Homo sapiens: one gene and its partners. The protein of the gene in region 1 purifies or fractionates together with the protein of each later gene. This does not show direct contact. Each region holds a gene or a part of one and is shown in the gene's direction. Other genes may lie near its edges.

What was found.
Region 2: the proteins of LEP (region 1) and GLB1L purify together in Homo sapiens (affinity purification with mass spectrometry; one large-scale study listed by BioGRID and IntAct). This does not show direct contact.
Region 3: the proteins of LEP (region 1) and IDUA purify together in Homo sapiens (affinity purification with mass spectrometry; one large-scale study listed by BioGRID and IntAct). This does not show direct contact.
Region 4: the proteins of LEP (region 1) and TOR3A purify together in Homo sapiens (affinity purification with mass spectrometry; one large-scale study listed by BioGRID and IntAct). This does not show direct contact.

What each region holds. Positions count from the first base shown.
Region 1 is NC_000007.14:128,254,593-128,258,415, forward strand, and holds the end of LEP (leptin precursor), read left to right. Parts: coding exon 1-171; 3' UTR 172-3,037; downstream 3,038-3,823. UniProt on the Homo sapiens protein: Key player in the regulation of energy balance and body weight control. Once released into the circulation, has central and peripheral effects by binding LEPR, found in many tissues, which results in the activation of several major signaling pathways.
Region 2 is NC_000002.12:219,236,098-219,239,668, reverse strand, and holds the end of GLB1L (beta-galactosidase-1-like protein isoform 1 precursor), read left to right. Parts: coding exon 1-108; intron 109-217; coding exon 218-258; intron 259-458; coding exon 459-577; intron 578-889; coding exon 890-964; intron 965-1,084; coding exon 1,085-1,174; intron 1,175-1,305; coding exon 1,306-1,419; intron 1,420-1,711; coding exon 1,712-1,843; intron 1,844-1,941; coding exon 1,942-2,157; intron 2,158-2,321; coding exon 2,322-2,597; 3' UTR 2,598-3,071; downstream 3,072-3,571. Other genes in the region: tRNA endonuclease ANKZF1, read right to left, coding at 3,224-3,347.
Region 3 is NC_000004.12:996,647-1,000,543, forward strand, and holds part of IDUA (alpha-L-iduronidase isoform a precursor), read left to right. Parts: intron 1-1,718; coding exon of another isoform or gene 1,719-2,343; intron 2,344-2,777; coding exon of another isoform or gene 2,778-3,109; exon of another isoform or gene 3,110-3,418; intron 3,419-3,897. Other genes in the region: uncharacterized protein LOC124900646, read left to right, coding at 1,719-2,343, 2,778-3,109.
Region 4 is NC_000001.11:179,091,836-179,094,445, forward strand, and holds part of TOR3A (torsin-3A precursor), read left to right. Parts: intron 1-2,257; coding exon 2,258-2,382; intron 2,383-2,610.

The sequences.
Region 1 (3,823 bases):
GCCTTCTCTAAGAGCTGCCACTTGCCCTGGGCCAGTGGCCTGGAGACCTTGGACAGCCTGGGGGGTGTCCTGGAAGCTTCAGGCTACTCCACAGAGGTGGTGGCCCTGAGCAGGCTGCAGGGGTCTCTGCAGGACATGCTGTGGCAGCTGGACCTCAGCCCTGGGTGCTGAGGCCTTGAAGGTCACTCTTCCTGCAAGGACTACGTTAAGGGAAGGAACTCTGGCTTCCAGGTATCTCCAGGATTGAAGAGCATTGCATGGACACCCCTTATCCAGGACTCTGTCAATTTCCCTGACTCCTCTAAGCCACTCTTCCAAAGGCATAAGACCCTAAGCCTCCTTTTGCTTGAAACCAAAGATATATACACAGGATCCTATTCTCACCAGGAAGGGGGTCCACCCAGCAAAGAGTGGGCTGCATCTGGGATTCCCACCAAGGTCTTCAGCCATCAACAAGAGTTGTCTTGTCCCCTCTTGACCCATCTCCCCCTCACTGAATGCCTCAATGTGACCAGGGGTGATTTCAGAGAGGGCAGAGGGGTAGGCAGAGCCTTTGGATGACCAGAACAAGGTTCCCTCTGAGAATTCCAAGGAGTTCCATGAAGACCACATCCACACACGCAGGAACTCCCAGCAACACAAGCTGGAAGCACATGTTTATTTATTCTGCATTTTATTCTGGATGGATTTGAAGCAAAGCACCAGCTTCTCCAGGCTCTTTGGGGTCAGCCAGGGCCAGGGGTCTCCCTGGAGTGCAGTTTCCAATCCCATAGATGGGTCTGGCTGAGCTGAACCCATTTTGAGTGACTCGAGGGTTGGGTTCATCTGAGCAAGAGCTGGCAAAGGTGGCTCTCCAGTTAGTTCTCTCGTAACTGGTTTCATTTCTACTGTGACTGATGTTACATCACAGTGTTTGCAATGGTGTTGCCCTGAGTGGATCTCCAAGGACCAGGTTATTTTAAAAAGATTTGTTTTGTCAAGTGTCATATGTAGGTGTCTGCACCCAGGGGTGGGGAATGTTTGGGCAGAAGGGAGAAGGATCTAGAATGTGTTTTCTGAATAACATTTGTGTGGTGGGTTCTTTGGAAGGAGTGAGATCATTTTCTTATCTTCTGCAATTGCTTAGGATGTTTTTCATGAAAATAGCTCTTTCAGGGGGGTTGTGAGGCCTGGCCAGGCACCCCCTGGAGAGAAGTTTCTGGCCCTGGCTGACCCCAAAGAGCCTGGAGAAGCTGATGCTTTGCTTCAAATCCATCCAGAATAAAACGCAAAGGGCTGAAAGCCATTTGTTGGGGCAGTGGTAAGCTCTGGCTTTCTCCGACTGCTAGGGAGTGGTCTTTCCTATCATGGAGTGACGGTCCCACACTGGTGACTGCGATCTTCAGAGCAGGGGTCCTTGGTGTGACCCTCTGAATGGTCCAGGGTTGATCACACTCTGGGTTTATTACATGGCAGTGTTCCTATTTGGGGCTTGCATGCCAAATTGTAGTTCTTGTCTGATTGGCTCACCCAAGCAAGGCCAAAATTACCAAAAATCTTGGGGGGTTTTTACTCCAGTGGTGAAGAAAACTCCTTTAGCAGGTGGTCCTGAGACCTGACAAGCACTGCTAGGCGAGTGCCAGGACTCCCCAGGCCAGGCCACCAGGATGGCCCTTCCCACTGGAGGTCACATTCAGGAAGATGAAAGAGGAGGTTTGGGGTCTGCCACCATCCTGCTGCTGTGTTTTTGCTATCACACAGTGGGTGGTGGATCTGTCCAAGGAAACTTGAATCAAAGCAGTTAACTTTAAGACTGAGCACCTGCTTCATGCTCAGCCCTGACTGGTGCTATAGGCTGGAGAAGCTCACCCAATAAACATTAAGATTGAGGCCTGCCCTCAGGGATCTTGCATTCCCAGTGGTCAAACCGCACTCACCCATGTGCCAAGGTGGGGTATTTACCACAGCAGCTGAACAGCCAAATGCATGGTGCAGTTGACAGCAGGTGGGAAATGGTATGAGCTGAGGGGGGCCGTGCCCAGGGGCCCACAGGGAACCCTGCTTGCACTTTGTAACATGTTTACTTTTCAGGGCATCTTAGCTTCTATTATAGCCACATCCCTTTGAAACAAGATAACTGAGAATTTAAAAATAAGAAAATACATAAGACCATAACAGCCAACAGGTGGCAGGACCAGGACTATAGCCCAGGTCCTCTGATACCCAGAGCATTACGTGAGCCAGGTAATGAGGGACTGGAACCAGGGAGACCGAGCGCTTTCTGGAAAAGAGGAGTTTCGAGGTAGAGTTTGAAGGAGGTGAGGGATGTGAATTGCCTGCAGAGAGAAGCCTGTTTTGTTGGAAGGTTTGGTGTGTGGAGATGCAGAGGTAAAAGTGTGAGCAGTGAGTTACAGCGAGAGGCAGAGAAAGAAGAGACAGGAGGGCAAGGGCCATGCTGAAGGGACCTTGAAGGGTAAAGAAGTTTGATATTAAAGGAGTTAAGAGTAGCAAGTTCTAGAGAAGAGGCTGGTGCTGTGGCCAGGGTGAGAGCTGCTCTGGAAAATGTGACCCAGATCCTCACAACCACCTAATCAGGCTGAGGTGTCTTAAGCCTTTTGCTCACAAAACCTGGCACAATGGCTAATTCCCAGAGTGTGAAACTTCCTAAGTATAAATGGTTGTCTGTTTTTGTAACTTAAAAAAAAAAAAAAAAGTTTGGCCGGGTGCGGTGGCTCACGCCTGTAATCCCAGCACTTTGGGAGGCCAAGGTGGGGGGATCACAAGGTCACTAGATGGCGAGCATCCTGGCCAACATGGTGAAACCCCGTCTCTACTAAAAACACAAAAGTTAGCTGAGCGTGGTGGCGGGCGCCTGTAGTCCCAGCCACTCGGGAGGCTGAGACAGGAGAATCGCTTAAACCTGGGAGGCGGAGAGTACAGTGAGCCAAGATCGCGCCACTGCACTCCGGCCTGATGACAGAGCGAGATTCCGTCTTAAAAAAAAAAAAAAAAAAGTTTGTTTTTAAAAAAATCTAAATAAAATAACTTTGCCCCCTGCTCTTTGTTTCCTGTCGCCGTTCCTGGAGGGGCTTCGGGAGAGCTGTTTGTGTGTGACAGGGCAAGGCCTGGCTGGCCCCCATCCATCACTGGGGTCAGCTCCGCCCCAGGCTTGGCCACAGCCAGCCGCCAGTTATTCAGGCAAAAGGATTACCCTGTAAAGAAAACAGAGCTGGGTTTGGACGCTGAGAGGACTGGGAAACAGGTTGCAGGGAGGCACAGGAAGCACACACCAAGAGCCAGAGAGAGGCCTCTGTGCCATCCCAAGGAATGAGGACAAAGAGAGGGGTCCTCGGGAAGAAGGGATCCACTTTGGAGAGGCCCCTTAACACGGGACAGAGCAAGGACAGAAAGAGGCATCCACTGGGATGGAAGAAGGACAGGATCCACAGGGAAAGAGGGATGAGGGGAATGAAGAGAGAAGAAATAAAGAGTTCAGCATCACCTCATGATGCAACTAATTTGGCACAATGCCCAGCACAATGTACCCCTCCATTCTGATTTGGTGGCCAGAAGAATTGAGATTCTTGGGCCAGGCACGATGGCTCATGCCTATAATCCCAGCACTTTGGAAGGTCAAGGTGGGTGGATCACTTGAGACCAAGAGTTCGAGACAAGCCTGGCCAACATAGCAAAACCCCATCTCTACTGAAAATACAAAAAGTAGCCAGGCATGGTGGCACGTGCGTGTAATCCCAGCTACTTGGCAGGCTGAGGCAGGAGAATCGCTTGAACTCGGGAGGCAGAGGTGGCAGTGAACCGAGATCATGCCACTGCACTCCAGCCT
Region 2 (3,571 bases), on another chromosome or scaffold:
CTACACAGGCTGGCTGGATTACTGGGGCCAGAATCACTCCACACGGTCTGTGTCAGCTGTAACCAAAGGACTAGAGAACATGCTCAAGTTGGGAGCCAGTGTGAACATGTAAGTAAAGACACTGGGGGCAATATGAATCTGTAGCTGGGAGCTGGGGATGAAAGTTAAGATTCAGTGAGTCAGCTTTTACCTGTTCCCCCACCCTCTCTCACTTCAGGTACATGTTCCATGGAGGTACCAACTTTGGATATTGGAATGGTGAGTCCAGATGGTCCCTGGGATAGAAGCAGGGAGGTAACAAGGAATTAGAATCTAAGGGCCAGGTGGATTAGGATGTCTAGAAGCTGAATATGGCCACCTCTGCCCCCTCTGATGGCAAAATTCTCTGCATGAAGCATGCTTAGTAGTGCCTGTCATCTGAAATACATGTTGAATTAATTAAATTGGCTCAACTTCAGGTGCCGATAAGAAGGGACGCTTCCTTCCGATTACTACCAGCTATGACTATGATGCACCTATATCTGAAGCAGGGGACCCCACACCTAAGCTTTTTGCTCTTCGAGATGTCATCAGCAAGGTACCCTACCATTTCATTAAGCTCCAAAGGCTTTTATTAATTTGGAGGAAGGGAGTGCCCACATTGTAAAGGTATCCCATAAATTGGTGGTTATTGTCTGGGCCACAGAGCCTTCTGAGCATCCCACTGAGGCATTTCCCATTCAACCAAATGGGACTATGTGTGAAGACACACAGGTGTGCAAAATTATTGAGCCTCCATGATCCCTGAAGCCCTTCCCTGGGCCCCAGGTTAGGAACTCTGCCCTAGAGTCTTGGAATAGGTATTGTTTTCTGTGGTTTTCCTATGGATCCTGAGAGAATCTGGGCTCAGTTCCAGGAAGTTCCTTTGGGACCTTTACCTCCCCCGAGCCCCAAGATGATGCTTGGACCTGTGACTCTGCACCTGGTAAGTTCCTCCACATCTTTTCTCTTATACCACACCTTTTTTTTCTAAATAGCCTATTCTTTCTTGTCCTCTATCCAGAAACTTCCCTGATATTCTAATTCTTCTCCCTTATTCTAATAGGTTGGGCATTTACTGGCTTTCCTAGACTTGCTTTGCCCCCGTGGGCCCATTCATTCAATCTTGCCAATGACCTTTGAGGCTGTCAAGCAGGTAAGGCATAAACCCACATCTGGTGGAGATGACAACCTCCCTTAACAGCTATACGCAAAAGTTCCTTGGCTATAGTCACAGTGTCCTCTTTTATTTCTGTTTGTCTGAAGTACTCATTCTTCCATACCCAGGACCATGGCTTCATGTTGTACCGAACCTATATGACCCATACCATTTTTGAGCCAACACCATTCTGGGTGCCAAATAATGGAGTCCATGACCGTGCCTATGTGATGGTGGATGGGGTGAGAACCTAATTCCAGGCTGTGAGCCCCAAACTCCTCCCTTCCCCAGGAAGCGTTAGCCTTAAGTTCCCCATATTTACACTTTCCCACCTGCCTGTTCACGTTTGCAGAGGGTTCCAGGGATAAGCTGGGATGAGGAAGAGTTTGATTAAGGATAGAATTCTAGAATAGATGGGTGATAGATGGCTACATTCTCTCTGCCCTCCAAATAAGTATCCTAATGTGTGGTTTCCTATGCAGTGGCTAAGAGCTAGATGCTGAGCCTTGCTCCTATCCTATCTCCTATCCACAGGTGTTCCAGGGTGTTGTGGAGCGAAATATGAGAGACAAACTATTTTTGACGGGGAAACTGGGGTCCAAACTGGATATCTTGGTGGAGAACATGGGGAGGCTCAGCTTTGGGTCTAACAGCAGTGACTTCAAGGTGAGCTAGCTTTGCCTAGTTATATCCCAGGGCTTGATTAAGGATAACTTAGCTTCAAAGCTTAGTGAATGATGACTTTTCATTTTCCTTCCCTATAGGGCCTGTTGAAGCCACCAATTCTGGGGCAAACAATCCTTACCCAGTGGATGATGTTCCCTCTGAAAATTGATAACCTTGTGAAGTGGTGGTTTCCCCTCCAGTTGCCAAAATGGCCATATCCTCAAGCTCCTTCTGGCCCCACATTCTACTCCAAAACATTTCCAATTTTAGGCTCAGTTGGGGACACATTTCTATATCTACCTGGATGGACCAAGGTATTGGTAATGGTGGTGGTTTGGGTAGCGGGGAGGTAAAAGAGAAAAATCACAGAAGGAGGGGAGCAGAAAGTATCCTCTGATTAGAAACCCAAAAGGGTATGATTCTACCCCTGGAGAGCTGACCCTTTCTTTTCCCCTCTTTCCTGCTCCCTATTCCCCAGGGCCAAGTCTGGATCAATGGGTTTAACTTGGGCCGGTACTGGACAAAGCAGGGGCCACAACAGACCCTCTACGTGCCAAGATTCCTGCTGTTTCCTAGGGGAGCCCTCAACAAAATTACATTGCTGGAACTAGAAGATGTACCTCTCCAGCCCCAAGTCCAATTTTTGGATAAGCCTATCCTCAATAGCACTAGTACTTTGCACAGGACACATATCAATTCCCTTTCAGCTGATACACTGAGTGCCTCTGAACCAATGGAGTTAAGTGGGCACTGAAAGGTAGGCCGGGCATGGTGGCTCATGCCTGTAATCCCAGCACTTTGGGAGGCTGAGACGGGTGGATTACCTGAGGTCAGGACTTCAAGACCAGCCTGGCCAACATGGTGAAACCCCGTCTCCACTAAAAATACAAAAATTAGCCGGGCGTGATGGTGGGCACCTCTAATCCCAGCTACTTGGGAGGCTGAGGGCAGGAGAATTGCTTGAATCCAGGAGGCAGAGGTTGCAGTGAGTGGAGGTTGTACCACTGCACTCCAGCCTGGCTGACAGTGAGACACTCCATCTCAAAAAAAAAAAAAAAAAAAAAAGTAACCCTTGGACCTGGGACATGGAGTGGGCAGGATCCCTTGGTGCTGGCCACGGTGACCCTAAGGAACTAAAGGCCACAGTGCCTCTGAATGTAAGTACAAGTACACATTCCTTGCCAAACTTTATTGTGATTAAAATTCCAGAGACAGTACCAGCTCCACATACCTCTAGCCCTGTCTTTGCCCTAGTTCCCGAGTGTCCTTCACCCCCATCTTCCAAATCATCTCTGGTTTCACGGGGAAGAAAAAACCTAGGGCTGCTGTGAATGTGCCCTCTCAGGTCCCTGAGTTGGCCCCAGGTAGAGCTGTAAGAGATCAGGAAGAGGGCCTCCCTGCCTGACGGCGATGATCCTGGAGGCAACGTGTGGAGCAGAAAGAGAAGTCGAGGTAGTGAAAGGGAGTCAGGCCTTGGAGGGATGCCCCACAACTCCAGCAGCGTCTGAACAAGAGGAAGAAAAATGGCTGGACAGGTACCCCAGAAACTTTCCAATCCACGCTCTCCCCGTCCCTCCTCCTGCCATTTCTGTTTTCACTGCAGCATCTGCCAGAACATCCCAAATTCCCTCAACCACCCTTCTGAATACTGTGCAGGTACTCATTTCTCTTGCCCCCAATGGTCCCTGCAACATTACAGTCCACCCACTCCCTCATCCCGCACCCCAT
Region 3 (3,897 bases), on another chromosome or scaffold:
CCCACCTAGGCTGGGTGTCTAAAGTAGGTGAGGTCATCACTGCAGGATCCTTGGGGCCTGACCTGCCCCCTCCCACGTGTCTCTGCCTCAGTTTCTCTGAGCATTGAGGCAGTGGCTGGTGCTGTCCTGTGGCCAGGCCCAGAGGCTGAGTGCCCAGGGGGTCCAGGGGCCTTGCTGGCCAGAGAGAGTGGGTAGCCCATTCTACCCCGAGCCTGTGCACGCGCAGGGCTGCCAACACCTCCTTCCTTCCCCGCTTGGCCCACGCAGGACAGGGGGCGTGGGGGCCCCAGCAACTGGGACCTGCCTGAATCCGCCTCCCTCCTGAACCCCCCTCCCGCCTGAACCCCTGGCCAGTCTTGTGTCACACGCTTACTTCCTTAGTTTTGTCTTTAAATCAGCCGTTTTACATTGGAGTCCATTTACTGGGAAAGGAGACCTTGCATCCTTGCCTCCCACCCGTGGGAAGAAGCCCGGCCGACAGGGCTTTGAGACCGGACCCGAGTTTATTCCCAGAGACCCTCCCGCGGGTGGGCGAGCTCCGAGGTCTGGAGAAGAGGAGGCCCCGGCCCGCACCCTCTAGCACCTGTGTCCCCTTCGTCCCGGCCACAGATGCAGGTTCTCCCAAGAGGCGGGTCTGTACCCGCCCCGCGCCCCCAGCCCAGCGGGCCCGGCCTCCGCCCCTGCCCCGCACTCCCACCCCCACCCTCAGGAGAGCGCGGCCCTGCTCCCCACCCCGCGCGGTCTCCCCCCACCGCCTGCGAACCCCCATGCACGCGCGGCCCCGCCCCGCGCACTCACCAGGCCCGGCAGCCGCGCGGTCTTAGCGGCTCACGCGCTCGGGCCCAGGGGCGGGGACGTGGGGACCCGGGCGGCCGCTCAGCCGCGGCCGCGCGGTGAATGAGCCCGTTGTGCGGCCGCCGCGGCCCCAGCGACACCCCGCGCGGGGTCTACAAGGGCTGACGCGCCCCCGCGGCTTCCGTTCCCGGGCTGGGCGGTGGCTCGTCTGCGTCTCCGGCCCTGGGGGTGGGCTGCGCGCTCCATCTCGCCGGCCCAGTCCCCTCCCCAGCGTCGGTCTCTCAAGGCCCCTCCCAATGGGGGCCAGGCGGAGGGTGGGCCCTCGGGCCTGTGGACTGACCCCGGGGTTCCTGGGCCTGGGGGCGGGGATCCCTGTCCCGGGCTCCCCTCGCTGCGAGGCTGGCCCTGCCAGATGACACTCAGAGGCGCCTTGGGTGTCAGGCCAGGGACATCTCTGATGCTGGGGCTCCCCCCGCTAGGGTCAGGGGCTGCCGGGCTATCGCCTTGGGGTTCTGCAGAGAAAACCTGAAGCCCAGCTGGGTCTTCACTTTCCTCCAGGTCACCGTGCCCCGCTACTCCAACTCCGTGGGACTTTGGAATGCACCTTCTGGGCATTTAATTCTTATCCAAGTGCCTCTTAAGTTATACTTCTTTGCTACCAGTGTGTCCTTTGGATGGAGGGGAGGAGAGGTGGTAGGGGCCGGGTGGGGTGGACCCCAGGGACTCCTGCTGCTCCTGCTGGACACCCAGCCCGGGGTACAGGAGCAGGTGGGGACCAGCAGAGGCGGGGCGGAGCAGGAGCCCACACCCAAAGGCTGTAGACTCCTGCCAAGGCTCTGCCTTGATCTTGTACACCATGGGAGGACCAGAAGGGAGGCGTTGAGGTGTCCAGACCTTTGCTGTGGAGCTGGGGGTGCTGTGGCATGGGGAGACTGACAGACGGGGAGCTGTATAGGGCCAGATTCCGGTCCATGGTGGTAACCCCATCCCCCACCACTGCAGATGCGGCACAAAGCCAGCTGCCACAGGAGGTGCACTGCCCCACGGGCAGCTGTGCTCACCTGCGTGGCGTCCGCAGGAAGCCCTCAGACCCTGGCCAGCCTGGTCTCTGCTTCTCACTCCAGGCTCAAGGCTGGCTGCTATTCCATTCACCCCATTCCCTTTCCCTCAGGCCAGAAGCATCACTCACAACTCCAGACCCTTGCACACCAATCTCCTCACTCAGTTCACCCTCAGATGTCCAACTCCACATGGCCAAAACCGAGACCAGTCTCACTCCAAGCTCATCCACCCGCCTAGCTGCCCAAGCTGAAATCCACAGTTGCCCTGTACGACCCCCCGACCCCCCACCTCACCCCCCAGCTCACCTCAAACCTCATCAGTCCCTCTGCTCACAGCCTGCACAGCCACCACCCAGTCTGGGCACCATACCTCTCTGGGCAACCCCCATGGCCCCCAGCCAGTCTTCCAGCTCCCACCCTGACTCCAGTGAGCTGCCAGAGGGATCCTTGAAAAATGCTCTGGAAGCCAAGGTGGGCGGATCACGAGGTCAGGAAATGGAAACCATCCTGGCTAACATGGTGAAACTCCGTCTCTACTAAAAATACAAAAAAATTAGCCGGGCGTGGTGGCGGGCGCCTGTAGTCCCAGCTACTCAGGAGGCTGAGGCAGGAGAATGGTGTGAACCCGGGAGGGGGAGCTTGCAGTGAGCCGAGATCGCGCCACTGCACCCCAGGCTGGGCAACAGAGTGAGACTCTGTCTCAAAAAAAAAAAAAAGAAAAAAGAAAAATGCCCTGGCACTGCTCAGCTCAGAACCTTGAAAGGGATCCTTGTTTCGCTCTGGGTCAGGGTCCCATCCTCAAAGCAGTCACTTCCAGAGCCCCATGGAGCCTCATATCCCATGATATCCACCCTTATTCTGTCTCAGGCCCACCAGCTGCCTCCCTGCTGCCTGATTGTCATGTGTGCATTCCTGTTCCAGAGCCTTTGCACTGGCGATGCCATCTGCTGCCTGGATGTCTTCCTGCTGGCTGGTCCCGTTGCATGGTAGCCTTAGGTGTCTCCTCAGAGAGGTCCCTCGCTGACCATCAGGCTCCTCACTCCCTGTCGTATCCCCTTCACCAAAGATTCCCATTCCCTGACGACGCCTGTCCCCTCGGAATGCAGGCCTCGTGGGAATTCAGCCCATCCGCAAGTGCAGTGGCAGGGCGGCCCCCTTCCCCCTTGACGACGCCTGTCCCCTTGGAATGCAGGCCTCGTGGGAATTCAGCCCATCTGCAAGTGCAGTGGCAGGGCGGCCCCCTTCTCCCTTGAGGACGCCTGTCCCCTCGTAATGCAGGCCTCGTGGGAATTCAGCCCATCTGCAAGTGCAGTGGCAGGGCGGCCCCCTTCTCCCTTGAGGACGCCTGTCCCCTCGTAATGCAGGCCTCGTGGGAATTCAGCCCATCTGCAAGTGCAGTGGCAGGGCGGCCCCCTTCTCCCTTGAGGACGCCTGTCCCCTCGGAATGCAGGCCTCGTGGGAATTCAGCCCCATCTGCAAGTGCAGTGGCAGGGCGGCCCCCTTCTCCCTTGACGACGCCTGTCCCCTCGGAATGCAGGCCTCGTGGGAATTCAGCCCCATCGGCAAGTGCAGTGGCAGGGCGGCCCCCTTCACCCTTGACGACGCCTGTCCCCTCGGAATGCAGGCCTCATGGGAATTCAGCCCATCTGCAAGTGCAGTGGCAGGGTGGCCCCCTTCTCCCTTTCCTGTGCACTCATGTTGCCTCTTGGGGTGTGGGAGGGGAAATGGGGCACTCCTGGGCCTCCAGGAGGTGCAGAGAACCAGGGTGAGGTGTCCACCAGGTCCTGCCTGGCTCCTGACCCCTGGCCCCTGCTGCTCGCGACTGGCCTGCCTCGTGCCACTGAGCCTCAGAGCCATTCCGAACCCCCACCCCAAGTTTTCCATCTCTTGATGGTGTAGGGTTGGGGGGTCTCCATGTACAGATACTCTAGTTCATACCAGGCCTTCATAGGGTTATTTTCCAAGGGGAAGGGCCCCTCGGGAAGCCGGGATCGGAGTCCTGTGTGGCACCTTGCAGGCTCCCACATGCTCCGTTGTGGCC
Region 4 (2,610 bases), on another chromosome or scaffold:
AGGGTCTTGCCTCAGCTGATGCAACTGTGGCTGCTCCTGTGTGCACAGATCATGTGCCTGGAAGGCCTTCCTGCAGCAGGGGCAGTGTCAGAAAGTGGAAGAGTGGTGTGAGCAGCTTCCCCGGGGAAAGCCTGGCTGAGCAACTGACCTTGAGCAAGCACTGCAGATGGCCCTTGTTCCTGCCGGGCTCCTCCAGCTGGGAGCTCTCAGCCCCTGGTAAATTCTGGCAGTGAAAGACACATTAGCACCTCCCCCTACAATGAGGCACCTAGCTAGACAACTTGGCTGTCCGGGCTTAACCTGCGTGGCAGGGAAGGACGCCTGCCCAGCCTTAGCCTCTACGCAATGGTGGAGGCAGGGAGGGAGAGAACCACACAGCTCCCCTCATTTCCCAGCAGCCCCCATGGAGCCTAGTCAACAGGGTGTGGTCACAGGCTAAATGAGCAAAGATGTGAGCTAATATACTGGTAGGTGTCATGGGGGCTTTCAGAGCTGGGTAAGGAGGGAAAGAGATGGAGATACTGGTTCCCCACTCCTTAACCTGCCACCTGCCTTCCCTGTCCTTTACCCTCCCTCATTCTGCTGGACCTGAGGAAAATGCAAGGGAGGCTAGGCCTAGTGGCTCATGCCTGTCATCCCAACACTTTGGGAGACTGAGGTGGGAGAATCACTTGAGCCTAGGAGTTTGAGACCAGCCTAGGGAACATAGTGAGACCTCGTCTCTACAAAAAAATTTTAAAAATAGGGCCGGGCACACCTGTCATCCTAGCACTTTGGGAGGCGGGCAGATCAGCTGAGGTCAGGAGTTTGAGACCAGCCTGGCCAACATGGTGAAACCCTGTCTCTACTAAAAAAATTAGCTGGGCATTGTGGCATGTGCCTGTAATCCCAGCTACTTGGGAGGCTGAGGCAGGAGAATCTCTTGAATCCGGGAGGCAGAGGCTGCTGTGAGCTGAGATCACGCCACTGCACTCCAGCCTGGGCAACAAGAGTGAAACTCTGTCTCAAGAAAAAAAAAAATAGCTGGGTAGGGTGGCATGTACCTGCAGTCTCAGCTACTTAGGAGGCTGAGGTGAGAGGATCAGCTGAGCCTGGGGAGGTGGAGGCTGCAGTGAGCCAAAATCACGCCACTGTACTCCAATCTGGGTGACAGAATGAGACTGTCTCCAAAAAGAGAGAAAGCACGGGGAAGTGCAAGTGCATTGATGTGGAGCTGGGCAAGGACTTGGTTTAAGGAGCTGGTGGAGCTGGCTGAGGCTGCAGCCCAGGGAGGGGAGGAGAGTGCAGTGAGGTGGGGGAGAAGTATGCCTGGGCCGTGGAGGGCGGAGGAAGGCCAAGTCTCCACTACCTCTGTCCCAGCTTCCCTGCTGGTGGCTCTACGGTTGCATCTTCTCTCCTTATCCCCTTTCTCCCTCCTATCTCTAACCCAAATCACTTTCTGTGCTTCAGACCCGTAATTCCAGTTGCCCAGTGATATCACAACCTGAGAGAGATCACAGGCAAGCAAAAAACACTCAAACGTGTGTAAAACCAAACTTTCATCTCCACCTTTCCGTGTTCCACCTCTGTTAAGGGGGACAGCAAGCAGCTTGAGGCTAACGCTTGTTCTTTGATGACCTCCTTTCACTTCTCACATCCATCAGTTACAGGGTTTTTCAATTGTGCCTCCATAACTAATTCTTAAATCCTCCTTTCCATCCCTTCTCCATGATCCATAAGCTCAAGTCCATGCAAATGGCAGACAAAGCCCTCCTCACCTTAGCCAGCCTTTCATGCCTGTGCTCCTCTGGCGCACCCAGGCCTAGACACTTCCCTTCCTTGCCAAGTGTCTGATGATCACTACTTGGTCTTTATTTGCTCAGAAGCCTCATCCTCCCTCTGAAGCCTTCTCCTTAGAACTCAGTCACTCCTCCATTAGCGCTTGCCACACTGTCCTGGAACCGAATACACGGATGCCCCTCAGACCACACAGAAGAACCATATCTTACCATCTTTTCATGCTCCCTGCACTTAGCACAGTCTCAGTAAGTGTGTGTCAAGAGGGAACAAGAGAGAATGGGTGGCAAAACTGGACAGTGTCTTTTCTGTGCAGACCTTTGGGTTGTGAGGTTGTGACAAGGTCTCCTGGAAGAGAGAGAAGGTCCACGCCCCTCAGCCTCTATTCTTCCAGGCACTAATGCATTGGTTTCAGCGGTGAGATAACATATATGGAAGCTAAATATAAACAAATGGGTTAACAAGCTCTTGTCTCTTTCAGTAATCTCAGGGGCGATATAATCAATGAGGTGGTCCTAAAGTTGCTCAAGGCTGGATGGTCCCGGGAAGAAATTACGATGGAACACCTGGAGCCCCACCTCCAGGCGGAGATTGTGGAGACCATAGGTGAGTAACTGACTCAATATGCCTCTGGTGAGAGCCACAGCTGGTGATAATTAATGTGTTTGTTGGAATGTGTGTTTATGAAGCAGACAGGGTACTTGGGAACACAGAGGGCAGACTATAATCATCTCACATTGTCAACCCTGGGTGGGCACAAGAAAAGTGGTAAGAAAGCCTGAGCTCCTTTTCTGGGAATGCTTGGAAATAGTAGTTTGCACTGGCCCCAAGAAC